Linked DNA regions of Homo sapiens. The protein of the gene in region 1 purifies or fractionates together with the protein of each later gene. This does not show direct contact. Each region holds a gene or a part of one and is shown in the gene's direction. Other genes may lie near its edges. The genes, in order: DTX3, NUP35, FARSB, CHFR, NMD3, NDUFS6 and GDA.

Evidence for each region.
Region 2: the proteins of DTX3 (region 1) and NUP35 purify together in Homo sapiens (co-immunoprecipitation; one large-scale study listed by IntAct). This does not show direct contact.
Region 3: the proteins of DTX3 (region 1) and FARSB purify together in Homo sapiens (affinity purification with mass spectrometry; 3 studies listed by BioGRID and IntAct, with this or other methods). This does not show direct contact.
Region 4: the proteins of DTX3 (region 1) and CHFR purify together in Homo sapiens (affinity purification with mass spectrometry; 4 studies listed by BioGRID and IntAct, with this or other methods). This does not show direct contact.
Region 5: the proteins of DTX3 (region 1) and NMD3 purify together in Homo sapiens (affinity purification with mass spectrometry; 3 studies listed by BioGRID and IntAct, with this or other methods). This does not show direct contact.
Region 6: the proteins of DTX3 (region 1) and NDUFS6 purify together in Homo sapiens (affinity purification with mass spectrometry; 2 studies listed by BioGRID and IntAct, with this or other methods). This does not show direct contact.
Region 7: the proteins of DTX3 (region 1) and GDA purify together in Homo sapiens (affinity purification with mass spectrometry; 2 studies listed by BioGRID and IntAct, with this or other methods). This does not show direct contact.

Annotation. Positions count from the first base shown.
Region 1 is NC_000012.12:57,603,448-57,607,623, forward strand, and holds the start of DTX3 (probable E3 ubiquitin-protein ligase DTX3), read left to right. Parts: upstream 1-1,376; 5' UTR 1,377-1,411; exon of another isoform or gene 1,412-2,123; 5' UTR 2,124-2,284; exon of another isoform or gene 2,285-2,742; 5' UTR 2,743-2,805; intron 2,806-2,995; 5' UTR 2,996-3,042; coding exon of another isoform or gene 3,043-3,070; coding exon 3,071-3,071; intron 3,072-3,417; coding exon 3,418-4,166; intron 4,167-4,176. UniProt on the Homo sapiens protein: Regulator of Notch signaling, a signaling pathway involved in cell-cell communications that regulates a broad spectrum of cell-fate determinations.
Region 2 is NC_000002.12:183,155,443-183,158,811, forward strand, and holds part of NUP35 (nucleoporin NUP35), read left to right. Parts: intron 1-2,001; coding exon 2,002-2,071; intron 2,072-2,840; coding exon 2,841-2,969; intron 2,970-3,369. UniProt on the Homo sapiens protein: Functions as a component of the nuclear pore complex (NPC).
Region 3 is NC_000002.12:222,642,593-222,646,092, reverse strand, and holds part of FARSB (phenylalanine--tRNA ligase beta subunit), read left to right. Parts: exon of another isoform or gene 1-471; intron 472-1,171; exon of another isoform or gene 1,172-1,208; intron 1,209-3,087; coding exon 3,088-3,242; intron 3,243-3,500.
Region 4 is NC_000012.12:132,846,106-132,849,605, reverse strand, and holds part of CHFR (E3 ubiquitin-protein ligase CHFR), read left to right. Parts: intron 1-881; coding exon 882-965; intron 966-1,450; coding exon 1,451-1,521; intron 1,522-2,475; coding exon 2,476-2,563; intron 2,564-3,500. UniProt on the Homo sapiens protein: E3 ubiquitin-protein ligase that functions in the antephase checkpoint by actively delaying passage into mitosis in response to microtubule poisons.
Region 5 is NC_000003.12:161,245,311-161,248,810, forward strand, and holds part of NMD3 (60S ribosomal export protein NMD3), read left to right. Parts: intron 1-1,025; coding exon 1,026-1,138; intron 1,139-1,947; coding exon 1,948-2,020; intron 2,021-3,500. UniProt on the Homo sapiens protein: Acts as an adapter for the XPO1/CRM1-mediated export of the 60S ribosomal subunit.
Region 6 is NC_000005.10:1,804,407-1,807,906, forward strand, and holds part of NDUFS6 (NADH dehydrogenase [ubiquinone] iron-sulfur protein 6, mitochondrial precursor), read left to right. Parts: intron 1-3,500. UniProt on the Homo sapiens protein: Accessory subunit of the mitochondrial membrane respiratory chain NADH dehydrogenase (Complex I), that is believed not to be involved in catalysis. Complex I functions in the transfer of electrons from NADH to the respiratory chain.
Region 7 is NC_000009.12:72,222,440-72,225,939, forward strand, and holds part of GDA (guanine deaminase), read left to right. Parts: intron 1-680; coding exon 681-788; intron 789-3,237; coding exon 3,238-3,345; intron 3,346-3,500. UniProt on the Homo sapiens protein: Catalyzes the hydrolytic deamination of guanine, producing xanthine and ammonia.

The DNA of each region.
Region 1 (4,176 bases):
TTTTTTAAATTTCACTTCTCTCAGGGAGCCTGTGTTTAAGGGTGCAGAGACCAGCTGAAGAATTCTGGTGTTCAAGGTGTTGGGCCCCTAACTAAGGATGTGGGTTTCTAGACAGATGGCTGTGAACTTTTTTAAAAAGGCTGTGAAGGGTGTGCACGGGAATGGAAAACTTAGTCTTTAACCTTGTGGGAGGTCAGCGGTAGTGAGGGCCAGGGAAGAGTAGGGTGATGGGACCCTTCCTCTTCCCAGAGTTCTGGGCTTGCTAACACTCCATCTTTGTAAAGGTGAGTAGGCCTCTCAGCCCACCAGCTAAAAGAAAAGGAATCTAGTATTCCCCCAGGCTTCCTGGGAAAGCTGTCCTCTTCCTGGAGGGAAGGAAGAGTACAGCAGGGTCCTGGGAAAGTGAAGAAAGTGACTAGCCCTCCAGTCTAGAGGGGGGAGTGAAAAAGGGGTGGATGAATAGAGGTTGTTGCCAGTTTGGGAGATTCCTGCCTGTCTTGGCTGAGGAAGTCTTTTGGCTGGTGGAAAAACCTGGCTTGATGTGGCCCCAGGGAAGTGAGTTGGATTGGGCGGAGACTGCTTGATGTGGGAAGCAGAGCAGAGCTTTTTTTTTTTCTTCTTTGAGAGTTTTTAACTCTATTTGAACCATACACTTGACACCACCACCACCTCGAGCCACTTTTTAAAAAATGTATTCGCTTCCCATTCTGCACCAGCCTCCATATCCCTGTTTGTGGAAAGAAAAATCAGAGGCACTGACCAATGATCATCTGAGAGCAGGTTGTGGGGGTCATAGGAGGTAACAATCTAGAAAGAGGCAGGAGATGAGGGAGGGGATTGAAATAGTTTAGTACCCGGATTTGTTTATTTTTTAGAGCCAATGCTTTTCTTTTTACTATGACTCTTCCCATCCCACATTGTTCCTCAAAGGCCCTTCTACCATAAGGATTCAAAAAATTGCCGCCCTCCCCCCGAATCCCCATATACCCACCAACACTTCACCCACCCATCCACCACCAGCTCCTGGGAGCTGCTACGCAGCTGGCTGGGAAAGAAAAGGGAGAGTGCTCCGCCGGGAGCGGGGAGCGAGTAGGGTGGCGTCTCCAGGGATTTAACCTCCTACCCTCAGTTCCATGACGCCACCCCCTCCCTCCAAAGACTGGGACAGCGCCTCCATTTTTGTTTTGGGGAGGAAGGGCAGGGGCTTGCGGATAGAAGGGGGTCAAAGGAACGGTGATTATCACCTGTGAGGGGAAAGGGGGTGCTGTCCTCCCTCCTTCCCTTTTCCTCAGCCTGCACCCCCTGCAATCCCCCACCTTTCGGGGTCTCCCCCTCCTTGTTGCTAAGGCCCGGACCGTCATCCCAGCAACAGCCTCAGTCATGTGACCGGCAATGGCGGCGCTGACGAGAGGTAGGTGAGCCCGGCGCCCCCCACACCCACCGCGCGCCCCCCGGGCCCCGCTCGCACCCCTCACGCGCCCCCCGCTCCCCCGGCGCCCCCTCCTCCACCTCCCCTCCCCGCGCGCGGCTCCGGGCTCCCCGCTCCGTGCCCGGCCGATCATCTTTCTAGCACCCTCCAGCCTTGGCCTCCATTCGGGGGTTCTGAGGGCTGCGATCGGGCCGACATGCACCCCCACCCGGCGGTGGGGATCCGGGGGCTTTGGCTACTGAGGGATGTGGGGAGTTGGTTCCGGGTCGGGTCTTGGAGGAGGCCGTGGGGGGAGGGCGGGAGCTGCTTCAGTGGATGCCCCCAGGGACCCTTGCCCATCCGGGCTGTGCCTCCCTCTGGCCTCTGTCTGGAGGGAGAGACTGGTTCCTTGTCCGGCCTGGGTTGCCACAGAGGAATCACAGACCCACCCTAAACTGGGGCCCCGCCTCCCTTTTCTGTGCCAGCAGGACTTGGACCTAGGACACCTAGGTCCTGGGTCCCCCGTGATGGGGAGAGAAGTGTTGCATCGCGGATAGACTGTATGGGCTGAGACTCTAGGGTTCCATTTTCACTTATGAATCTCGAGGTGCATCTGGCCTTGGGGGACGATGATGGAGGCATGAAGGGACAGCTGCTCCTTCTTGGATCAGTCAATAAATGGAGGTCACACTAATGGCCCTTCTTTCTGTTTGAGCTGCATTTGGAAGTGTTGTGGAGACAGCCCCGTAGCCCAATGCGACCAGACTCAGGGAAAACATCAGGCCCCTCCAGCTGAGCCCTTGTGTGAGCCCCGCCCCTCCCTAAATGCCAGACTTGGGAGCTGACAGACAGCACTGCCTGTGCTGGGTTTAAAAGGTGACAATGAGAACTTTGTTATTGCAGGGGCTGCTGCCACTTTGTTCACATCCTTAACAGACTTCAGCAGAAGGGACTGAGTTAGCTCTCAAGGAAGGCTCCCTGGCAATAGGGGCTGAATTATTTGGCAATGTGGAGCAGGCGAGGAGTTGGGGAGCATAGGAAATATTCCGGTCCATGTGATCTGAGGGAGGTGGCAAGAAGACCTCCACCTGTGTGGGCGTTTTCTTTCCTGACTTCTCTTATGTGTGCCCTAGGCTTTCTTGGGGGCCTCAGAGCTGGGGAAGAAAGGAGGAAGGTTAGCATGTTGAAGTTCCTTCTTGAGCAACTTGGGGAGAAGCTGATAATGGAATTCTGCAGAGAAGAGAGGAGATGGAAGGGGAGTTTTTATTTCTGGGTTGGCTGAGGGGAATGGTAACATTTGCCATCATAACTTTTTACCCTTCCCCCACTCCCAGTCCTGGTCAGCTGAGTGGAAATAGAAGGATTTCTGCTGCCATCATCTTCCATGGGCTTTCCAGGTATCTCCCCCGCAAGGGATCCTCAATTTTCACCCTTAAACTGGTTTCCTTCATTCCATGTTCCAAGTAATGCCATTCTTAGTAACCTATACCCAGGTTTCTGTCTCTGTTCCATGGGCTGCTGGGTTGGGGGCCATGGGAATTGGGAGAAGGGGTTTCTCACTTTCCTTCCATTTTTCCGCCCTACCAGGTCACACGACCTACAAGTAGGGAGCAGGGAAAGAAGAGTGAGCCTGCATGCCAATTCTAAGCTCTTCAGGATCAAAGTAAGCAAAAAGGAGGGGCAAAGAGTCTCCCTCCCCTTTAAACAGCCCATTTTTCCCCAAGAGGTGGGAGGGGCAAGTTGTTTCTATGATCTGGGAGAAATGACAGGAGAAACAAGACTGATACTTGGCTTAGATGATAATATAGCTCTGGAAACTTTTTTGCTCTTCAGTGGGTTTTGGGTTTGGAAGATAAGGGGAGACAGAATATGAATTTGGGTGAAGGGTTGGGGATTAGGCTTTGAGAAAACAGAGGTAATAGAGGGTTTGGAAGGAACCTGAAGTAGGAGGCACTGATACTTGTCAAATGGGGACCCCCCACCCTGAGTCCCTTTCACCCTGGGGGCAGTGTCGTTCGTCCTGTCCAGAATGGCAGCCTGTGGAGGCACCTGCAAGAACAAAGTGACTGTGTCCAAGCCCGTGTGGGACTTCCTGAGCAAAGAGACCCCAGCCCGGCTGGCCCGGCTTCGGGAGGAGCACCGTGTGTCCATCCTCATAGATGGCGAGACTTCTGACATCTATGTTCTCCAGCTTTCCCCACAGGGTCCTCCCCCGGCCCCTCCAAATGGGCTCTACCTAGCCCGGAAGGCTCTCAAGGGGCTGCTAAAAGAGGCAGAGAAAGAGCTGAAGAAAGCTCAGAGGCAGGGGGAGCTGATGGGCTGCCTGGCTCTGGGGGGTGGAGGGGAGCACCCTGAGATGCACCGCGCAGGCCCACCCCCTCTCCGAGCAGCCCCACTTCTGCCCCCAGGAGCTCGGGGGCTCCCCCCTCCTCCTCCCCCCCTGCCCCCACCTCTTCCTCCTCGCCTTCGGGAGGAGGCAGAAGAGCAGGAGAGCACCTGCCCCATCTGTCTGGGGGAGATCCAGAATGCCAAGACATTGGAGAAGTGCCGGCATTCATTCTGCGAGGGCTGCATCACCCGGGCTCTGCAGGTGAAAAAGGCCTGCCCCATGTGCGGCCGCTTCTATGGGCAGCTGGTGGGCAACCAGCCCCAGAATGGGCGGATGCTGGTCTCTAAGGACGCCACCCTCCTACTGCCCAGCTATGAGAAGTACGGCACCATTGTCATCCAGTACGTCTTCCCGCCCGGTGTCCAGGGGGTAAGAAGAC
Region 2 (3,369 bases), on another chromosome or scaffold:
GTAAAAAGCGGGTCATTGCATTCCGTTGTTCTCTAGAAAGTCCATACTCAGTCCTATATCCATAGCAATTGGGCTGGTGTGTTTTTTTTCTTCTTCTTCTTTTACATTTACATTTTTATAGTCTCTCATAAAATGGCTTTTTTTTTTTTTTGAGACAATCTCTCTGTTATCTAGGCTGGAGTGCAGTGGCATGATCATAGCTCACTGCAGCCTCCAATTCCTGGCCTCAAGCAATCCTTCTACCTCAGCCTCATGAGTAGTTGGGATAACAGGCATGAGCCAGCTTGGCTGCATGTTTTTGAAAATAGGTACCCACTCTTAAATCTGTTTTTCAGGCTCAGTAGTAGTGGTTTAACTTTTAAGATTTCCAGTAATTAGATAAATTACTTGAAGCACTCCTAGTATTTTTTCGTATTTCAGACATTAACTCTCCCAGCTGTTTATTTTTTTACTTTCGTGTTTTAATAACCCTCTATGACTTTAATTTCAAGAACTGAAGCATTCTCCTTTAAGGGATAAAGTATTTTATTTTGATCATTTATGGGGAAGTACCTCTAAAGGATGCATTATATATGTTCTTTCTTTGGTAGTTTAACTTTTTCCTACTGACTTAGGGTTATGAAATATTCATTGTTTTGGGTGATTCTGCTATAGAGTACTAGAATGTAAGTTTCTACTCAAAGTGGTCCAAGAGTTTTAGAATTATGTTTTATTTCTTAAGTACTTCCCTCACTTGCAGCCATTCTTTCTTCTTTTCATTTTTGTTTGATCTCTGCCCTGTAGGCACCCAACCTATTTGTTGTTTTTCTTTGTGGTTAGAAATTTCATGTCCAGATTTTATACAAATGAATTTTCAGTTCTGATTGCAGTGAATATTTTACTCATATAGATTTTATTTAATTAATTAATTTATTTTGAGATGAGGTCTTACTCTGTCACCCGGCTGGAGTGCAGTGGCACGATCTTGGCGCATTGCAACCTTTCCTTCCCAGGTTCAAGCGATACTTCTGCCTCAGCCGCCTGAGTAGCTGGGATTACAGGTGCCCGCCACCATGCCCAGCTGATTTTTTGTATTTTTAGTAGAGGCGGGGTTTCACCAGGTTGGCCAGGCTGGTCTCGAACTCCTGACCTCAAGTGATCCACCCACCTCGGCCTCCCAAAGTGCTGGTTGGTATTACAGGTGTGAGCCATCGTGCCCAGCCTCACATAGATTTTTAATGTGTTTGGTTTCTGATTTATTTTTGAGACTCGAATTTTTTTTTTTCTTTAGGGTTCTAATTCAGTCTTCAGATAACTGAAGTTAGATAGCCATTTCTATGCGATTGGTAGTGGTTATTGTTTTCAAATTGAAAACAGCTTTATTGTTAAGACTATAAAAGAATAATATGTCATTGTAAAATATCCAAACCATACAGAACTTTATAAAGAAGAAAGTAAAAATTACTTAGAATTTTCTCATGCAGAGATATGGCTAATCAAATTTTGGTAACTGTCCTTTTAAGTGATTCTATACCATAAATATTTTGATGCTGAATTTTCTCTTTGTTATGATACTAAATTTCAGAATTTTTAAGTGATGCTCAATGTATAATGATTCGTTTATAATTTAAAATTCTTTATCTTTTCATAACCGTAGTATACCTAAATATATTACATATTAACATACACATATTGAAATAAATTATATATAGAACTGCAACTTTATAGTTTTTTTTCTAAGACCTGGATAATGGCAACGAGAGTAGCATTTTTAGAGATTTCAGAGGTAGAATCTGAGGATGGAGAAGAATGGCAGGATAAGACTAACTTTAAGGTATTTGCTTTTGAGTGACTAGTCACTGACAGAATTAGCCCATATCGGGGAAAACAGGATGATCAGCACTCTCCTGTTAACGTTCTAGACAGTTGGGGGCCATTTATCTTGAAACATTATCTTGTAGTAATTTGCATTCACATTGATAGTAGAAGCTGACGTTTTCTTTGGACAACTCTTTTTTTCAGGTTTCCTCAAGCATCTGCTTCCTACATATTACTACAATTTGCACAGTATGGGAATATCTTAAAACATGTGGTAAGGCTTAATTTTTTTCAGTTCAGAGTTTTGACTAAAGAGGGATAAGTTGTGAATTGAGAGAAACTGCTTCTGAATTTTGTGGGTTTTTTTTAAACTTAAATTTTTTTTTGAGTTTTGATATAATACATCCTTTGAAGTCTGGAAGGCTGGAAGTTGCCTAATTTTTGATAAAAAGAGATATAGTGAGAAGATATGGAGAATTGAGAGTTTGAAAATCCACCTCCTCTCACCTCCTTTCTTAAACAGTTTACAGTCTTAAAAAAGATAGATTATGCCAAGTATTATATTACTGTTTTCCAATTTGAGCTGCTTTTATTGGGGATAAAAGAAGTAGGAGGCAGTTCCTGAGCTTTTAGAGTTTTTAGAGCTTTATAGCTCTAAAATTTAAAAAATTATCTTACCTTGTGCTACAAGTTATAAGTAACAAATCCTTTTTTGTTGCTAGAGATTGACTTAACTCCTATACAAAATCAAATTGAGTAGTTTTAAATAACTTTATGGCAAGTGTTGCTTTGATCTCTTTACAATAAACATATTTTGAGAAGTATCTTACTTTCAGAGAATATGTACATGTTGATTGTAGAGAATTGAGAGATTGTTGAAGCTGTTCTAAATACGATTTTTGTTGAACTTTACAGCTTTTTACAAGGCATCAAATACGGAATGGAAGTAAATTTATCTTACCATGTTCCTATTTTCTAGTAGAATTCATTAGATGTAGATTTTATATATTTTCTATTTTAAGAGACAGTTTTATTCTTTGCAGATGTCTAATACAGGAAATTGGATGCATATTCGTTATCAATCTAAACTGCAGGCTCGGAAAGCCTTAAGCAAAGATGGGAGGATTTTTGGAGAATCCATCATGATTGGTGTAAAACCATGTATTGACAAAGTAAGTTATTGGTGATGTAGGCAAAGTAGCTTAATCTATATGAAGAGCACAAGACCAAGGATTGAAATTGGTCGTTGTGTCACTTGGTTTCACTGTGTCTGTTTTTCTTAGTTTGTAAAATGTGATGATGTTTATAGTACTCTTTGTGGTAAGCCGAAGGTATTTAATCATAGAGTTTAGAATTTAGAGGTAATCTGTCCTCACCTCTTCATTTTTCAGATAAAGAAACTGAGAGGGCTTAAGTAACTTGTCCAGAGTTGTTAAAGGTGAGGCCTAGATTTTAGGTCTCTTGACTACTAATCCATTCTCTTTCTTGTGCAAAGCGATACCAGATTCTTTAAAGTACTTAAATGGAATGGTACTATTTCAGAATGAATTAGTTCATATTAACATTAACTGA
Region 3 (3,500 bases), on another chromosome or scaffold:
ACACCTAGTAAGATTGGCATTTTTTTAGACTGTGAAATGAATGAGGTTTCCTTTTATAATTTGAATGATAGATCTCTTCTCTGTACTTTTAATGATGATTTTACAGGAGAACTTTGGCCTTATTTTTATACTGGAACTGACTCAAAACCTCTTAAAATTTCTACAGTAACAGATTCTGTATTTTCTTTCACCTAGTAGACATAACTGAGCCAGTTAATCTAGTTTTGGCCATTCTGTATTTTGTCCAGTTTTTCTCATAAAAAAACAATATTTTTTATCTCAATTTCAGCAACTTCCAAAAAATGTGATTATGGGACCTACTTTATAATAAATTATGGGGTCAATGACAAAGTACTTTAGAAATTCTATGGTAAAATACTTGAAAAATATATTACTGAAGGAACGTATTATGTAAGAAAATCTATTACTTTTGTAATTGCCAATAAAAGCCCAATTTTTTTCTCAAAAAAAAAAAAAGACATACTTTAATTTAAAAGATAATTTTCTGATAGTTAGTATTATTTTTTTCCTAAGCCTTCTATCTTCACCTATTCAGTGCTTTTATAACACTACCTTAGGTGTAAAGTTAAAAAATGTTCAGGCTAAAAAATTGTACATTATCTTACCTTATTTTTCCTGCTGCCTTACTAATGTTACAGAAAGATCATCTTTGTACTAATCTATTTGTATACTTGAGAAATTGGCTGAGATTTCTGTAGTTTATAAGTTGCTATTCGTAATTTTACTACACCTCAGAATTATGTTTGAAATTATGTGATATCTAAGAGTGTTGGACTGGATGTTAGATTATTTGAGTTCTAGTTCTAACATTTACTAGCTGTGTAACTATGGACAATTACTTTGCCTGTCTGAACTCTATAGTCCAGACGAGTCTCTCTGGGCCTCCTTTTCATTTGTGAAATAAGGGGTTTGGATTATATGATCTTTATGGTTTTCTTTTTTGACTCTGAAATTTATGTGATTTTAAATTTCTGTAAGATTATTGTCAGGTAGCACTGACAAATTCAGTCTTTACATATGGTCATTGTATGAGCTGAGATGCTGAAACTGAAAGAAGATGTAAGCTTCTGTGTCTTTTTTTTTTTTTGCAAAGGAATTAGATCTTTTTTTACAGTAGTTCCTCCTTATCCACAGTTTTTTGCCTCCACAGTTTTGGTTACCTGCAGCAAACTGTGGTTTGAAAATAGGTGAGTATAGTACAATAAGAAATTCTGAGACAGAAAGAGACTACATTCACATTACTCTTATTATAGTATATTATTTTAATTGTTCTATTTTATTATTAGTTGTTAATCTCTTACTGTGCCTAATTTATAAATTAAACTTTTTCATAGGTATGTATGTATAGGAAGAAACATGGTATATGTAACATTTAGTCCTATCCAATGTTTCAGGCATCCACTGGGGAGCTTGAAACATATCCCCTGTGGATAAGGGGGTGCTGCTGAAAAATGAATGCAGATGCCTTCATTTCTCCGGTTATTATATTATCTTCTCTGTATATAGGTCCCTCCTGAGATCTGCCATCTCCTGGGAGGTGACTCAGCTTTCTTCACTATTGAAACAGTAATTTTATTAACCCCTTTGATTGAACATTGTTTAAACTCGAATTCTTCCTCTTCTCTTTTTGCCTCTCCCCATTCCCCTTCTTTTCTTTTCCCCCTTTTTACTCCTTCCTCCTCCTCTTCATTCTCTTGTTTTTCATTTTTCATTTTCCCTAATTATAAAAATTTGCCTCCTAAGTTTGAGATGCCCAAGGTAGAGGTTTTTTGGAGCCCAGCACCACCTTGTACAGCCCCAGCATTGCATAGACTCCTGTGGTTCCTCAGGTGGGACTTTGGCACATAATACTCGTGGCCAGAAGTGAATTTCTCTGCATATTGTGCAAATGTGGATATAATTCTTAATTTGGACAAAAATTTGAACTACTTATATTGTGGCAGTGGGAGGGCATCATGTAAAACAAAAATCATTACATATTTTGATAGAAATCCATCAGTTATTTTAGCAGGTTGTTGGTGGTGGAAATAGTAGGAATTCTGGTTAAGTGGAGTTTCCACATAATTAAAGCGTAACATTAACAGTTGGAATACAACTTGTAATCATTTCAAGTGAAAATTTCTTAAATATATTTACAGTTCCCTGCTGTAGTAAACATAAGGAATAGAGTGTAACTTCTCTGCAGTGGTTATGTTTAAGAAAATCTGTTACTCTGCTGTAGTGTGGTGCTTGAGATATTCTAAACTCTTTGCCACTGCATTAAACGTGATTCTAGTGGTGTTTCTTCTGTCATCTCCCTCTTGGCTGCCTTCATTCTGCTGCACTATCCCTTTGCTATCACTAGTTTGCTTCCCATTGTACCTATTATCCCTTCTAATTTTTACCAGTGTCTGATGGTCTCTGACTGTTTTTAGTTTTTATACTACCCCTCTCATTCTCATGTGGACTTGGGTGCCCACAGGATTTAGGTTTTAGAGTCATCCTATAAGAAGTTGTGTTTCTTTTATTTAGTGAATCATCTTTCTTTTACCCCTTTGACACTTTTGTTGTTGTTACTTTATGTTCTTGGTGATGTTTTAATTTTCTTTTAGCTTGAGATGGGAAAACTTTTTCTGTAAAGGGCCAGATAGTAAATATTTAGGCTTTTTGGCTCTATAGTCTCTGTTACAACTCAGCTATTGCAGTGTGTAAGTAGCAGTAGATAATATGTAAATGAATGGGTCTGTCTGTGTTCCAATAAATCTTTATTTACAAAAACAAGTATCAGGTATGATTTGGCCAGGGGGCTATTGCTTGCTGACCCTTGTTTAGATGGATTTGTGCTTTTCTGGGGTGATTGAGGTTGCCAGATATCTGAACTCAGTTAAAGCTGAAGTATTTTTCTGTCTGCTATGATTATAACACTTAATATTTTCATGTTGTTTTTGTCGTGGATATAATAATCCCATGTTCTTGTTATAGAAAATATGTATAATGTAGTTACTGCCTTATAGGGCTGACAACTTTTACTTTTTAAAGAGAGTTTAAATTATTTAATTTTTATCATTACTTTTTGGCTTGTTTTAGACATCTGAGAAGGAAATAATAAGTAAAGAACAAGGTAATGTAAAGGCAGCAGGAGCCTCTGATGTTGTTCTTTACAAAATTGACGTCCCTGCCAATAGATATGATCTCCTGTGTCTGGAAGGATTGGTTCGAGGACTTCAGGTCTTCAAAGAAAGGTAAGGAAATATGTTCCTTAAAGACTTTGCTAAGTTGGGTTTTCTTTTCTTTCCTTGTCATTATCAGCAGCCATGTTTAAATTTCTAGGAAAAAGCTTGTAGAGGAACGTAGCTTTAGCTCTCAATAGAGGGTTGATTTGAGGAATTAGATTCATGCAGATTGTAGCCATTTGAAAATTTCCATGAAAATTTTAGTCATAGCCATTCATCTTTGAGAACATATTTTAAAACTGGTGTTTAATGCTTTTATGGCGTCTT
Region 4 (3,500 bases), about 75 Mb from region 1:
AAAAAAGCCACCTGAATATGTGCAGTTGGGGGCAAGCATGTTGCATGTTCAGAGCTAGAATGAAGCCCATCGAAGCCGTGTTAGGGTGGTGGAGCAGGTGAGATTTCTTTCTTTTGTGTCTCTCACTGTTTTCCTGGGATGAGCATGTGGTGTTCAGTTTAAGAAACGATGTGGGTCTGAGGCCGGGTGCAGTGCATCACGCCTGTAAATGTTCAGTTTAAGAAACGATACGGGTCTGAGGCCGGGTGCAGTGCATCACGCCTGTAAATGTTCAGTTTAAGAAACGATACGGGTCTGAGGCCGGGTGCAGTGCATCACGCCTGTAAATGTTCAGTTTAAGAAACGATGTGGGTCTGAGGCCGGGCGCAGTGCATCATGCCTGTAATCCTAGCGCTTTGAGAGGCTGAGGTGGGAGGATCCCTTGAAGCCAGGAGTTTGAAACCATCCTGGGCAACATGGTGAGACCCTGTCTCTACAAAAATAAAAAATAAATTAGCCGGGCCTGGTGGTGTGCACCTGTAGTCCTAGCTACTCAGGAGGCTGAGGTGGGTGGATCCCTTGAACCCAGGAGGCGGAGGTTGCAGTGAGCTGTGATTGTTCCCCTGTACTCCAGCCTGGGCCACAGAGCGAGACTCCATCTCTAAAAAATAACAAACCAGAAAATGTGAGCCTCGCCTTTTTTCAGGGATACAACTCCTCGCCATCACAGTCCATCACAACCTGGGTGGCGTTAGCTGGATGTGGCCCCGCCCCGATTTCCATGAGACCCCTCCTGAACAATGTTTCCAGAAAGAGTTGAGCTCCTGAGCCTGGTGCTGACGAATTGTGTTGGAGACAGCCCTCAGCGCTGAGTGCGTGTAACGAGTGTCCTCTCTCCACAGGTGCGGTCTGCCTGCAGCCTTTCTGCCACCTGTACTGGGGCTGCACCCGGACCGGCTGCTACGGCTGCCTGGCCCCGTTTTGTGGTAATACTGGCTCTTCAGGCCCCAGTTGCTTTGACCTTTGCATGTTCTCTTGGTGAACTTGAGGGCAGGGGATGGTGGGGTCCATAGCCTGATGTTTATAGGGATGAGGCCACTGTTGGTCATCAAATGATACCTATTCCTGGCTGGACTGCAGAGGTGTGTCAAATTCGTGTTAGCTCAAAATCAAGCCTTAACAGAATTATTAGGGGAGATACTCCCAGGACAGAATCCTTGCAGCGGGGTTCTGCTGTTACGATACCAAGACCAGGTGCTGGGGAGACTCGGAGAGCTGATCTTTTTAAGGAGGGAGTGGAATGGAAATCATTTCTGCTTGTCCTCTGTTTAAAATTGAGTTTTATCATTGAACTTCTTATTCTTTCTAGAATCTGTAATGAAAAGAAATATGTTTATCCTCAGTGTCGGGCAGACAGTGCTTTCCTGCGACATCATTATAAACAGGTAACATTGCCCCTTCATCTCGGCAGAGCTCAACCTGGGTGACAAGTGTCTGGACGGCGTGCTGAACAACAACAGCTACGAGTCAGACATCCTGAAGGTACCGACTCGCTGCGGGCTGGGGAGCCGGGAGCCACATTTTCTCCCTAGTGCAGCCAGCTGGTTCTCTGCATTCTATTGGTGTTTATCTGTTTTACCTGACCCGCTGCGGGTTGGGGAGCCGGGAGCCATGTTTCCTCACTGGTGCAGCCAGCTGGTTCTCTGCATGCCATTGGTGTTTGTCTGTTTTTTCCGTATTCCAAAAATAGGTATTTCGTTTTTGTGCCTCCTGCCACCAATTCGTAGGAGCCGCTTCCCGCAGCTCTTGTTCCCGGCAGCTCTTGTTCCCACAGCTCTCGGTGAGGGCTTCTTGAAGGTGCCGCCCTTTAGCAAGACCAGGGCCTTTTCTCTGGTCCCTGTCTCTTCTGGCCATTTGCCTTCCCACGTCTAGGAAGCTACCTCGGTTTCTAGGATTTACATATGTTTAACATGCGCATTCGCCCTCCTGCCGAGCACTTTGCTGACAGCACACACAATGGTGGGGCCTTGAGGCTTGCCACAGACACACCTGGCAGGCGCCCGCTCAGCCCCACACTCTGCTTTGATGCCCACAGAAGGAGCTCAACAGCTCGTGTGTGTTTGAAGGGCACAGAGAACAGATGCCAAGTCCTCAGCTTTTCTTGTGCAACAGCCTGGGCTCGTTGCTGGGCTGTGTGCACTGTGGCCTGGCTTTCATGTCTCATTCACACCTGGGCTGTGTAGGTCTTGGCAGAACTTTTGAGAGACTCTGGTAACTGTTACACTGGAACCTTTTGGGACTTCCAGGAGGCTCTTGGACAAGACTTCTCGTGCTGCAGGCCGTGAACGTGCAGCCCTCTGCAAATGCCACTTATAAGGGTCTGAGCTTTGGCTTTGCACACTTTCAGGGGCCTTTTATGAAATGTTTTCTCTCGTTATTTCAGTGTTTCTTCCTCTAAACGAGTATTTCTTATTCCTCTCTTTTTTTGCGTCACAGAATTACCTGGCAACCAGAGGTTTGACATGGAAAAACATGTTGACCGAGAGCCTCGTGGCTCTCCAGCGGGGAGTGTTTCTGCTGTCTGGTGAGTTCTTCTGTTGCCTCCTGCTCTAAGGCGCATGTGAGTGTCCAGGGCTGTGCCTGCGTGTCTGCTCTCCCAGTGACAACTCCGACCTTCACCCACCCTGGAAGAGAGGAAAAAGATCCTGATGCTTTCAGGTTGTTTTTGTTTGTTTGTTTGTTTTTTGAGATGGAGTCTCGCTCTTGTTGCCCAGACTGGAGTGCAGTGGCATGATCTCAGCTCAAGGCCCCCTCGGCCTCCTGGGTTCAAGCGATTCTCCTGCATCAACCTCCTGAGTAGCTGGGATTACAGGCATGTGCCACCACACCCAGCTAATTTTGTATTTTTAGTAAAGATGGGGTTTCCCCATGTTGGCCAGCCTGGTCTTGAACTTCTGACTTCAGGTGATCTGCCCACCTCAGCTTCCCAAAGTGCTGGAATTACAGGCGTGAGCCACTATGCCCGGCCTTCAGGTTGTTTTTTGAAAGTTGAGCGTGGGCCGGGTGTGGTGGCTCACGCCTGTAATCCCAGCACTTTGGGAGGCTGAGGCGGGCGGATCATGAGGTCAAGAGATTGAGACCATCCTGGCTAACACGGTAAAACCCTGTCTCTACTAAAAAAAGAAAAATACAAAAAATTAGCCGGGCGTGGTGGCGGGCGCCTGTAGTCCCAGCTACTCGGGAGGCTGAGGAAGGAGAATGGCGTGAACCCGGGAGGCGGAGCTTGCAGTGAGCCAAAATCACGCCACTGCACTCCAGCCTGGGGGACAGAGCGAGACTCCGTCTCAAAAAAAAAAAAAAAAAGACAGTTAAGCATGAACCTGTATGACATATTCCAGCAGCTTCTATCCTTGTAGGGGAGGGTGGGTGTGGCCGACTGCCACTACTGCTGCTTGAGACCCTCACTACAGCAGTTACTGCTGTTACTGCTTGAGACCATCATTACAGGACTGAACAAAGGG
Region 5 (3,500 bases), on another chromosome or scaffold:
TATCATTTCCCTTCAGGCAGATATAAAACCAGATACTGTATTTTCTTGGTTTTTAAAAAATAGCTAGAAGAGGTTAATAAATTTCTTACAAGCAGAAGTCTAATAGCTAGAAAGTAAATCCTGTTAAATAAAATGTAGTCTCCCTGTTAATTGACTTTTCTTTTGCAGTTCTTAAGTTTGAGACTTGTCTTTTATTTCAGTTTCTCCTTCTGCTCTATTTCTTTTCATTTTTTTCATTTCTTTTTCTTTGACCAACTGCAATAAGAAACACTTGATTCTTTTCATAACTTTATTTTGAGATTCCTTAATTTTATTTATAACTCTTAGTATTTTTCTCTCGATCTCACTTCAGTTGGTCTGTCTTTGTTGTTAAAGGTGTTGGCATGTTAGAAAGGGAATTAATAGTTTTCTAGTTTAAAAATTGGGATGTTGTTTCTGCTATATATATATTATATATAGCAGATGTACTATATTATATATAGCAGATGTAGAGAATGATTGTAGTCTACACTAGTAGATACTTTAAAAATTAATTTGATAAAGATTTGGCCTCTCTAGTGGTTTACTACCAGGATTTCTAGGCTGTTTTGTCTGGACCCTGATTTTCTGAACCCTTGTGTCAAGCAAGAGTTTGCTTGGAATACGTTCTTGCTTTAAGATTCCCCTACCTTTTCAGTTATTTTGTTCACTCTGCCTATGTTGGCCCATCTTCCTGTGAAAACATTTCTTTTGAAAATTCTACATATATATATTTTTAGGGACATTATTAATGTTTTATAAAAGTCTTGAATAAAATCTTAGAAAAAGTCAATGATTTATTTTTATGAATTGTTTGTGAGTCTTTCTATACTCATGATTCAGTAATTTGTTAATTTTGACAGTGTTTCATACATCAGAAAAATACAAAAAATTTTCTGTCTTTAAAAATTAGAAAACCAAAAATCAATATTGTATTTAACTTTTCTCTGAGATGCTTTTAGAGTTATGTTTAGATTATTGAAGAGTACATTTTCTTTCCTCTTAAGCATACCCTCGGGGAAGTCTGGGTACAGAAGACATCTGAAATGAATACAGATAAACAGTATTTTTGTCGTACTCATTTGGGACATCTTCTAAATCCCGGAGACCTGGTGTTAGGGTTTGTATTATTTCATATTTTAAACTGCCAATTAGGATTGCAAATTTTCTTTGGGAACCAGCAAAACTACCTAAAAATACTAACATTGTTTATTCTAAAAAGATCGAAGGGTTCTTAGGAGCCTTATAACTCATTTTATTGTTGATAACTAAATTAAACTGGGTTGGACAGAAGCCCATAGTTACTCCATTTTGGTTATAATCTTAAAGAGTAATTTGTTGTAAGATTTTGTTAATTGAGCCTTGAAGTTATATGGTTGTATCCATATTTAGAACTGCTTTTGCAGATTGGGTCTTTTTTATTGTGCAGTTGCTACTGCTCAGATAACTCACTTTTAAGATATGACAACTATATATATACAAAGGGCTTGTAAAGGCATAGATCAGTTCTTTCTGAATCAGAGTTTTTCAGTGAGTGTGTGATTAAACCCTCAAATATTGCTTTTGCTTTTAGGATTTCAGTTTCTTTTACTACAGAATGAGGTGTTTTTTTTTTGTTTGTTTGTTTAAAATAAACTAGAAGGAAGCAACTAATTGAATTCTAAAGTTGGACTGATATGTAAGTCTGTTTTGCTTTTACAAATGTATGGCAAGGTGGACAATAATTGATTATAAGTGAAACTCAGAGTTCCTTATTGTCTTTACCAGCATCTACAGAAGCATGTTCATTGTGTAATAAATGACAGAACTTTTAAAGTGAGAAGCATATTAAATGTTTGATTTTTAGGAAGTTTTAGGTGATAGCCATAAAATAAAAAGTTACACACAAAGGGTAAATGGTCACTAAGTTTTTCATTGTTTACATTTCAGGTTTGATTTGGCCAACTGTAACTTAAATGATGAGCATGTCAACAAAATGAACTCAGATAGAGTTCCAGATGTGGTAAGGCTTTAGATTTTTCCCTTTTTTCCTGTGTTAAAGAGGATGAATGTAACTCTTAGGGGTAAGAGGTAGGAGTTCACACTTTTGAAAATAACAAATCAATTTAGAGATTTCTGAAACTGCAGATAAGGTATAATAGCAAAATTTTTTTTTTTTTTTTTTAAAGAAACAGGAGGCTGGGTGCAGTGGCTCAAGCCTGTAATCCCAGCACTTTGGGAGGCCTAGGCAGGTGGATCACCTGAGGTTGGGAGTTCGAGACCAGCCTGACCAACATGGAGAAACCCTGTCTCTATTAAAAATACAAAAAAATTAGCCAGGCGTGGTAGTGCAAGCTTGTAATCCCAGCTACTTGGGAGGCTGAGGTAGGAGAATTGCCTGAACCGAGGAGGTGGAGGTTGTGGTAAGCTGAGATTGCGCCGTTGCACTCCAGGCTGGGCAACAAGAACAAAACTCAGTCTCAAAAAAAAAAAAAAGAAATGGGAGTCTTGCTTTATTGACCAGGCTTGCGTGCAGTGTCATGATCACTCACTGCAGCTCAAAATTCTGAGCTCAAGTAATCCTCCCACCTCAGCCTCCTGAGTAGCTGAGACTACAGGCACATGCCACCACTCCCAGCTAATGTTTAAAACACGTTTTGTAGAGACGGGGTCTTGTTATGTTGCTCAGGCTGGTCTCGAACTCCTGGCTTCAAGTGATCCTCCCACCTCAGCCTCTCAAGTAGCTGGGATTACAGGTGTCACCTATCATGCCTGGCTTCATTTTAAATAATTTTTCTTGGTGGGGTAAATCCAAGATTTATTGTGATTGTTCCTTTTCTAATCACATTTTCATTCTCGATCAAAATACCTGATATTATCTGTAGAGCAAAAATAAATTTAGCCGGGTGCGGTGGCTCATGCCTGTAATCCTAGCACTCTGGGAGGCTGAGGTGGGTGGATTGCTTGAGCTTAGGAGTTCGAGACCAGCCTGGAAAACACAGTGAAACCCCATCTTTACTAAAATACAAAAAATTAGCCAGGCGTGGTGGCATGCACCTGTAGTCCCAGCTACTTAGGAGGCTGAGGCAGGAGAATTGCTTGAACCTGGGAAGTGGAGGTTGCAGTGAGCCAAGATCATGCCACTGCATTCCAGCCTGGGTGATAGAGCAAGATTCCGTCTCCAAAAGATAAATAAATAAATTTGCAGCTAAAAATGATGACATTTAGCATTTTTTCAGGTTCATTTTTATTAGGCTCACTTCGTTTCACATACATTGTTCAGTTAAGAAGGCATTTAGAGTTAAGGCTGTTATTCAAAGCTGAATAAAATATCCGTGAAAAATAATCTTCACAGTATCAAGCCTTGGAAAAAAACTATTAATTCTGAAAAATCTGTTAAGTTCTAACATGATGAGGTTAAGAATCATGAGAAACTGAATGAAATTAGTGTGAAAGACCCTGTCTTCTATACTTGCTTAATCTTTTAGAATAAACATTGATTT
Region 6 (3,500 bases), on another chromosome or scaffold:
GGTGGGTACGGGATAGTGTGATAGTAGTGTCTGTGACCGGCAGCTCACCCAGGGCGTCCTGGTTGTGACCTCAACGCTCCAGCCGGCCTAGCCTCCAGTGCCTTCCCCCATTCAGCATCCTGAGTGTCCAGGGCACGTCTTGGCCTCACACCTTGGAGGTTCAAGGCATGTTGATAACATGATGAGTGGGCATCCTGCCCAAGCTTTCCTTCTTTCAACACAAATTTGGTGTTTAGTACTATTTTTAGTAGTAGTTGTTTGGCTTCTGAGAGACTTAATTTTTTGGAACACTTTTAGATTTACAGAAAAACTGAAGAAAGTAGGGTTTTCACAGCCCCCCAGCTCAGTTTCTGCTGTTTACTGCCATCTCTCATTAGTGTGCTGCCTGTGTCACAGTTGATGAGCTGATACTCATACATTATTACTAACTCAAGTCCACAGGTTCACTCTTAATGTTGTATGTTCTAGGGTTTGGATAGATGTGTAATGACATGTATTCACTGTGACAGTGTTGTACCGAGTTCACTGCCCTAAAAATCCTCTGTGCTCTGCCTGTTCATCCCTCCCTCTGCCCAACCCCTGGCAGCCCCTGATCGTACTGTCCTCTAGTTTTGTCAAGTAATACTTTAAGAAGTAAACTGGGCCAGGCACAGTAGGCTTATGCCTGTCATCCCAACACTTCGGGAGGCCAAGGTGGGCTGATCACTTGAGCCCAGGCGTTCAAGACCAGCCTGGGCAATATGGTGAAACCCTGTGTCTACAAAAAATATAAAAATTAGCCTAGCATGGTGGCACATGCCTGTAGCTCAAGCAACGTGGGAGGCTGAGGTGGGAGGGTCATTGAGTCTGGGAGGTTGAGGCTGCAGGGAGCTGAGATCATGCCATTGTACTCCAGCCTGGGCAACAGAGCAAGACTCTATCTCCAGAAAAAAAAGAAAAAAATAAACTGAATCTGAACTTCACCTGTAGAACAAGCATAGCAGGAAGCTAGATAATTGAGCTGGTCTTTGCAGAAAAACAGTGGAAAGTATCTTTGTGTGGCTCCTGCCCAGCTTTGACCGGGGGTACCTTCAAAGGAATCCATGGCCCCTGGGCCTGTGACGGGCCTGCCTGTGAGGAGACTCCTCACGTGCTAAAGAATGTGCCAGCCACCCCCAGCCAGAAGTCAGGCCTCACATGGTCCTGGAGCAGGTGGCACTCTGGGGCCACATAAGTCAGATGGGGGACTGGAACAAACTTGGAAGTGACCAGGTATTTCTCTGCTGTTGATGGAAATATTTTCATTGCTTTATAGTCGTACAAGTAAAATTAAAAGCAGATATGACTTGTCCCCTAATAGAAGGGATGACTGGGGGAGGTCTGCAGTGAGGTGTGGTAATAATAACAGCAATAACAACAGCCTGGTAGCCAGGTACTTGGCGACATCATTTGCTTTTTTGGTTAGTAGCTGGGGCTGCCCTGCCTGGCCGCATCCGGATTCAGGCTCCTGCGCTGATGGGCTTATGAGGGCTGTGTGCTTCAGTGACTTAGCTTGTAGGCTCGTGGGCACTGAGTCCGTGTAGATGAGGAAAGGCTTGGAGCAGCGCCTGTCCCAGGGAAGCCTCTAGTGTGTGTTCGCCTTACTCTGCTGCTGCCTTCGCCACCACCATGAGGGCAGGCTTCACTTTTAGATTTTTTTAAAATACTGAAGTTAAACGTTAGTGTCTATACACAAGGTCTTTACTTTTAGTTTTTGAAAAGAAGGAATTAGGCAGCAAACCCGGAACATCAGGAGGCTGGGATCCCTTGAGTGCGACTCTGTGCCACCCCTCTCCACCTGTGTGTGTCAGGATCACGGAACAGCTGGGGGCTTCAGCTTGTGCCTTCATCTGCCCGCCAGTGGGATGGATTCTCTCCTCAGATGCTCGGCAGGGCGGAGTCACTCCCTGACCCGCACAGCCCACAGCTGGGCGTTTGGGTCAGCGAGATTCTGCACGTTTTCTGAGACACCTAGGCTGGCAGGGTTGAGTCCAGTTGTGACCCTGTGGCCTCACCTGCCTGGCCCTCAGTTCTTCAGTAGCAGACTTCAAGGTGCGTGGTGCCACCAGGATTAGGAGCAGTTGCACGCGGTGCAAATGTCTACCTGGCGTGCTGTTTTGTTGCGATAATGTGAAGTTTTATCCTTCTGAGAAGAGTGTGTAGATTTCGTTAATGGAAATAATTGAGTAGTGCTCACGAGAGAGGAAAACTACCAAGACCCTCCAAACAGAAAACAAGCGTGGGTGACGGCGTGGAGCAACTGAAACTTTGTGCCTTGCTGCTGGGAATGTAAAATGGCACAGCCGTGAAGGAAAACAGCGTGTGGGTTCCTCAAAAAGTTGAAACTAGGACTTCCATCCAATCCAGCGGTTCCACTTCTGAGCGTGTGCCCAAAAGAACTGAAAGCGGGGTCCGGGGTACACTCGTGTCATAGCAGCATTATTCATTATAACTCAAATCTGGAAGCAGTTTGGGGGTCCATTGTCAGCTGAACGGATAAGCAAAATGTGATCTGTCCATGGACAGTGGAATATTATTCAGCCTTAAGGAAGAACGCTTGACACGCCCCACAACACGGATAAGCCTGGAGGACGTTGCGCTCAGTGAAGTGAGCCAGTCACAGAAGCAGACTGCGTGATTCCTCTAACACGAGGGACCAGAACAGTCGCTTCTTAGAAGTACTGTATGAGGTACTCAGAGGTACTGCGTGAGGTACTCAGAGGTACTGCGTGAGGTACTCAGAGGTACTGCGTGAGGTACTCAGAGGTACTGTGTGAACACTGTGTGATTCCTCTGATACGGGGGACCAGAACAGTCGCTTCTTAGAGGTAGCAAGTAGTTGGTGGTTGCCGGGGGCGGGGGGTGAATTTGGAGTTAGTGTTGAATGGAAATGGAGTTTCAGTTTACGAAGGTGGAAGGTTCTGGAGATGGGTGGTGGTGATGGTTGCACAATAATGTGAATATACGTGGTGTCCTTAGAAATGGTAAAGATGGCAAGTTTTATGTTATGTGTATTTTACCACAATTAAAAAAAAATTAAGAGGGAAGTGGCTTCAGGCCCACGCAGGAATTGACCAGAGGTTCCTCCCTGAGGCTTCTGTGGCTGGTGTCGCTCATTCTTATTTCTCCCAAGAGGCCGGCAGGGCAGGGCACACTCGGGTGGGGAAGCAAGTGAGGCTGAGGCTGGGCCCACGCGGCACCTCCAGAGGCTCTGCACACCCGTGGTGGTAACTTGTGTTATCACCCAGGACAAGCGCACTCCTCGGATCAGCAGTGGAAGAAACTTGTGACATCTTTCGTCTACATTGAGCCATCTCTTGAGGCCAGCGCAGCACCACCCGAACCATGTTGGCTCTCGTGCGTGCACACACACACTGTTGGTCACAGGAGGGATGCCACCAGAGAGCTGAGAGGGAGTGCTGAGGTACCCAGGGGTCAGTAGCTGCAGGAAGCAGCCACTATTCCTAGGACTTGGGGGGCAG
Region 7 (3,500 bases), on another chromosome or scaffold:
TTCCTTATAGATGCTGGATATTAGACTTTTGTCAGATGCATAGTTTGCAGAAACTTTCTCCCATTCTGTTGGTTGTCTGTTTACTCTGTTGGTGGTTTCACTTGCTGTGCAGAAGCTCTTTAGTTTAATTACATCCCATTTATCAATTTTTACTTTTGTTGCAATTGCTTCTGGTGTCTTTGTCATGAAATCTTTTCCCATGCCTATGTCCTGAATGGTATTGCCTAGGTTGTCTTCCAAGGTTGTTTTTTTGTTGTTGTTTGGTTGGTTTTTTGTTTTTTTTTGAGACTGAGTTTCTCTTTTGTTGTCTAGACTGGAGTGCAATGGTGAGATCTCGGCTCACCACAACCTCCGCCTCCTAGGTTCAAGCAGTTCCCTTGCCTCAGCCTCCCGAGTAGCTGGGATTACAGGCATGCGCCACCACGCCCAGCTAATTTTGTATTTTTTAGCAGAGACAGGGTTTCTCCATGTTGGTCAGGCTGGTCTCGAACTCCCGGCCCTCAGGTGATCCACCTGCCTTGGCCTCTCAAAGTGCTGGGATTACAGGTGTGAGCCACCACACCTGGCCCTTCCAGGGTTTTTATAGTTTTCGGTTTTACATTTATGTCTTTAATCCATCTTGAGTTAATTTTTGTATATGATGTAAGGAAGAGGTATCAATTGTTTTTAATTATCTCCAGTATTCTAGAGTGAAGCCCATAGTGACACCACGTTTTTCCCTCTCCTGCTCTGAGACTTTGATGGGTGAACTGGGCAACATTGCTAAAACCCGTGATTTGCACATTCAGGTGGGTATTCTTCTTCTCTTTATGCCTCTATGCAGACCTGCAAGATTTCTCAGCACCCTTAAATCATCATTTCCAATAATCTGTAGTTGTTTTACTGAGTAATCTGTTTCTTCAACTGAGATATCCTAGAGTCACAGCATAACAGGAGAGAAAGGACCCCTGTAGATATCACCTAATCCAATTCTTTCATTTTGCAGATAAGAAACCTGAAGTTCCTTATACCCTCAATGTTTTCTGATCAGTCTTCTAAAGACAAGAAAATCGTTTTAAGTAGTGGCAAGATCAATAACAGACTGTGATCTGTTCTCTGTAGGATACATTTAATGCATTTATTTCCTACTTCTCTTTCACTTGATACTTTCTCAGTGTGTTCTGTACCTTCATTCTTAGAGAAACCAGCTATTATTTGAAAAGCAAAAAGAGCCTAATTTCCACCTTACAAAATAGCATTTAAAATCCCTTTTGTTCTGAGTTTCTTAATTTAAAATCAGAACAAAAAAGTATACCTTGCTTTGTCATTAAATTGTTGCAATTTAGGAATAAAACACTTTTTTAAAGCTTATATCTGGGTTAAAATTGAGAGTTCCCCTTCTCCCATCCAAGCTTAATTACATACTGTACTAAAATTTCTCCTCTTAGGAGTTGACGGTCTTATAAGAAAGGTCAGATCAGGGCAGAGACAACACATTGATTCTTTACCATTTGTAAATCAGTGTTTTTTTGGTTTTTGTTTCCCAAATCTATTTTCTTAGGAACCATTAACCGCTCTCACCTTCCCTATTATTGTTATTATTATTTGCAGCCTATAATTTTTGAATTTTTAATTCAGTCCCACACATTTCTCTGCTGGAGATAAAATTCAAAACTTACCTGATGTTTCTGCTTTGCAAACAAAATGCTTCTGTCGCCGACAAAATAAAATACACATGAACATTTAAAAATACATGAAAAATAAGATGAGAAGAACACACAACAAAATCAAGTTTATCCTTGCTAGAGAGATGCATGTGGATGTATGCACATTTACTCACATTTATCCAAATGACTCGAATCATCAGATTGTCCTTTCTTCTGTTGCTGTCCATGCATTTCATCGGTGGTCTGGGACTTCCTCAAGGCCAGGGATGGAGTTCATTGTCTGAGTAAAACACGTGTTTTCAGAACATTGCTATTTTTTTCTTTTAAAAATTTAGCTACGCATATTCTAAATGGCATTGCCATTCTTGGAAGTATTAATTATGCCCTCTTAGATTTTGTGGTGCCCTAGAGAAAGGTCTTAGGGGCCTTTTTCAGTGTGGGGGCATAGGACTTATTGTTTTGCTTGCATGTGGATTCTTATGGGCTGTTTCTTGATGACCGTGGAATTTTCTAGCTCAGCTATTTTCAAACTCTTTTTTGGAGAACTCATTCTGGAAACTAACAAAGGGCACAGAATGGAGACAGGGTCCCAGAGTCTCAATCCTGCTGCATCCGGAGGGGCAGTGCTTTTATGCCTTCTATATATTGGGTTTCTGTGAATTTTTATATGAATAATATATTCAGTGCCGAGAGAATTTGGAAAATCACTCATCTAGCCCAACCCTTTTTTTTTTTTTTTTTTGAAAGATGGGAAAATTGCTGTCCAAAGAAAAGAATGACTTTCTCTAGGACACATAGCTGTCAGAACTTGGGCCAAACCCAGCTCTCTTTACTCAAATTCCAGTGTTCATATAAGTGAACCCCACTGTCTGCTTTTTTATGAACACTGAGCTCTTTTCTTAAACGGCCAGTATGGCCAGTCACGGTGGCTCACGCCTGTAATCCCAGCACTTTGAGAGGCTGAGCCCGGCAGATTACTTGAGGTCAGGAGTTTGAGACCAGCCTGGCCAACATGGTGAAACCCCATCTCTACTAAATATACAAAATTAGCCAGGCATGGTGACACATGCCTGTAATCCCAGCTACTCAGGAGGCTAAGACAGGAGACTCACTTGAACCTGGGAGGCAGAGGTTGCAGTGAGTGGAGATTGTGCCACTACACTCCAGCCTGGGCGACAGAGCCAGACCCTATCTCAAAACAAAAGAAAGGCCAGCACCAGAAGAGGCAGGTTGCTAGGGTCCTGACTATCTTCAAGGAGGACTTCATATTTGTTCCAGCTGGAGGTCAGAATTTGAAAAGACTTTGTTGGAAAAATTTGTCTTGATATTATACATACACATACACACCCACACCCACATCCACACACACACACTACATGTTCATAATATTCAGTTTCTTTGTCATATACATTATATTATCTATGATGAATATAATTGTTTCTAACAAAATGCATGTGTAATCTTCATTGCCTTTCTATGTGGTCCCTTAAATAGGCAAGTAGAAAACCATTCACACCATTTTGAGGTAGGAAGTGTAATTTCTAATGGTATTTTACAGAAGAAAAATGAAAATATTATTTTTTTCTTGTAGAGCCATATAAGTGAAAATCGTGATGAAGTTGAAGCTGTGAAAAACTTATACCCCAGTTATAAAAACTACACATCTGTGTATGATAAAAACAATCTTTTGACAAATAAGGTAAGTTTTATATCATGACATAATCTGTTTAAAGGAGGGCATATTTATCTCAATTTTAAAATCTCAATAGTAATCTTCAGATTTCTGATATGAATACATTTCTTTAAAAATTTTTTTTAAAGTTTTAATTTTTGTGGGTACACAGAAAGTTTATA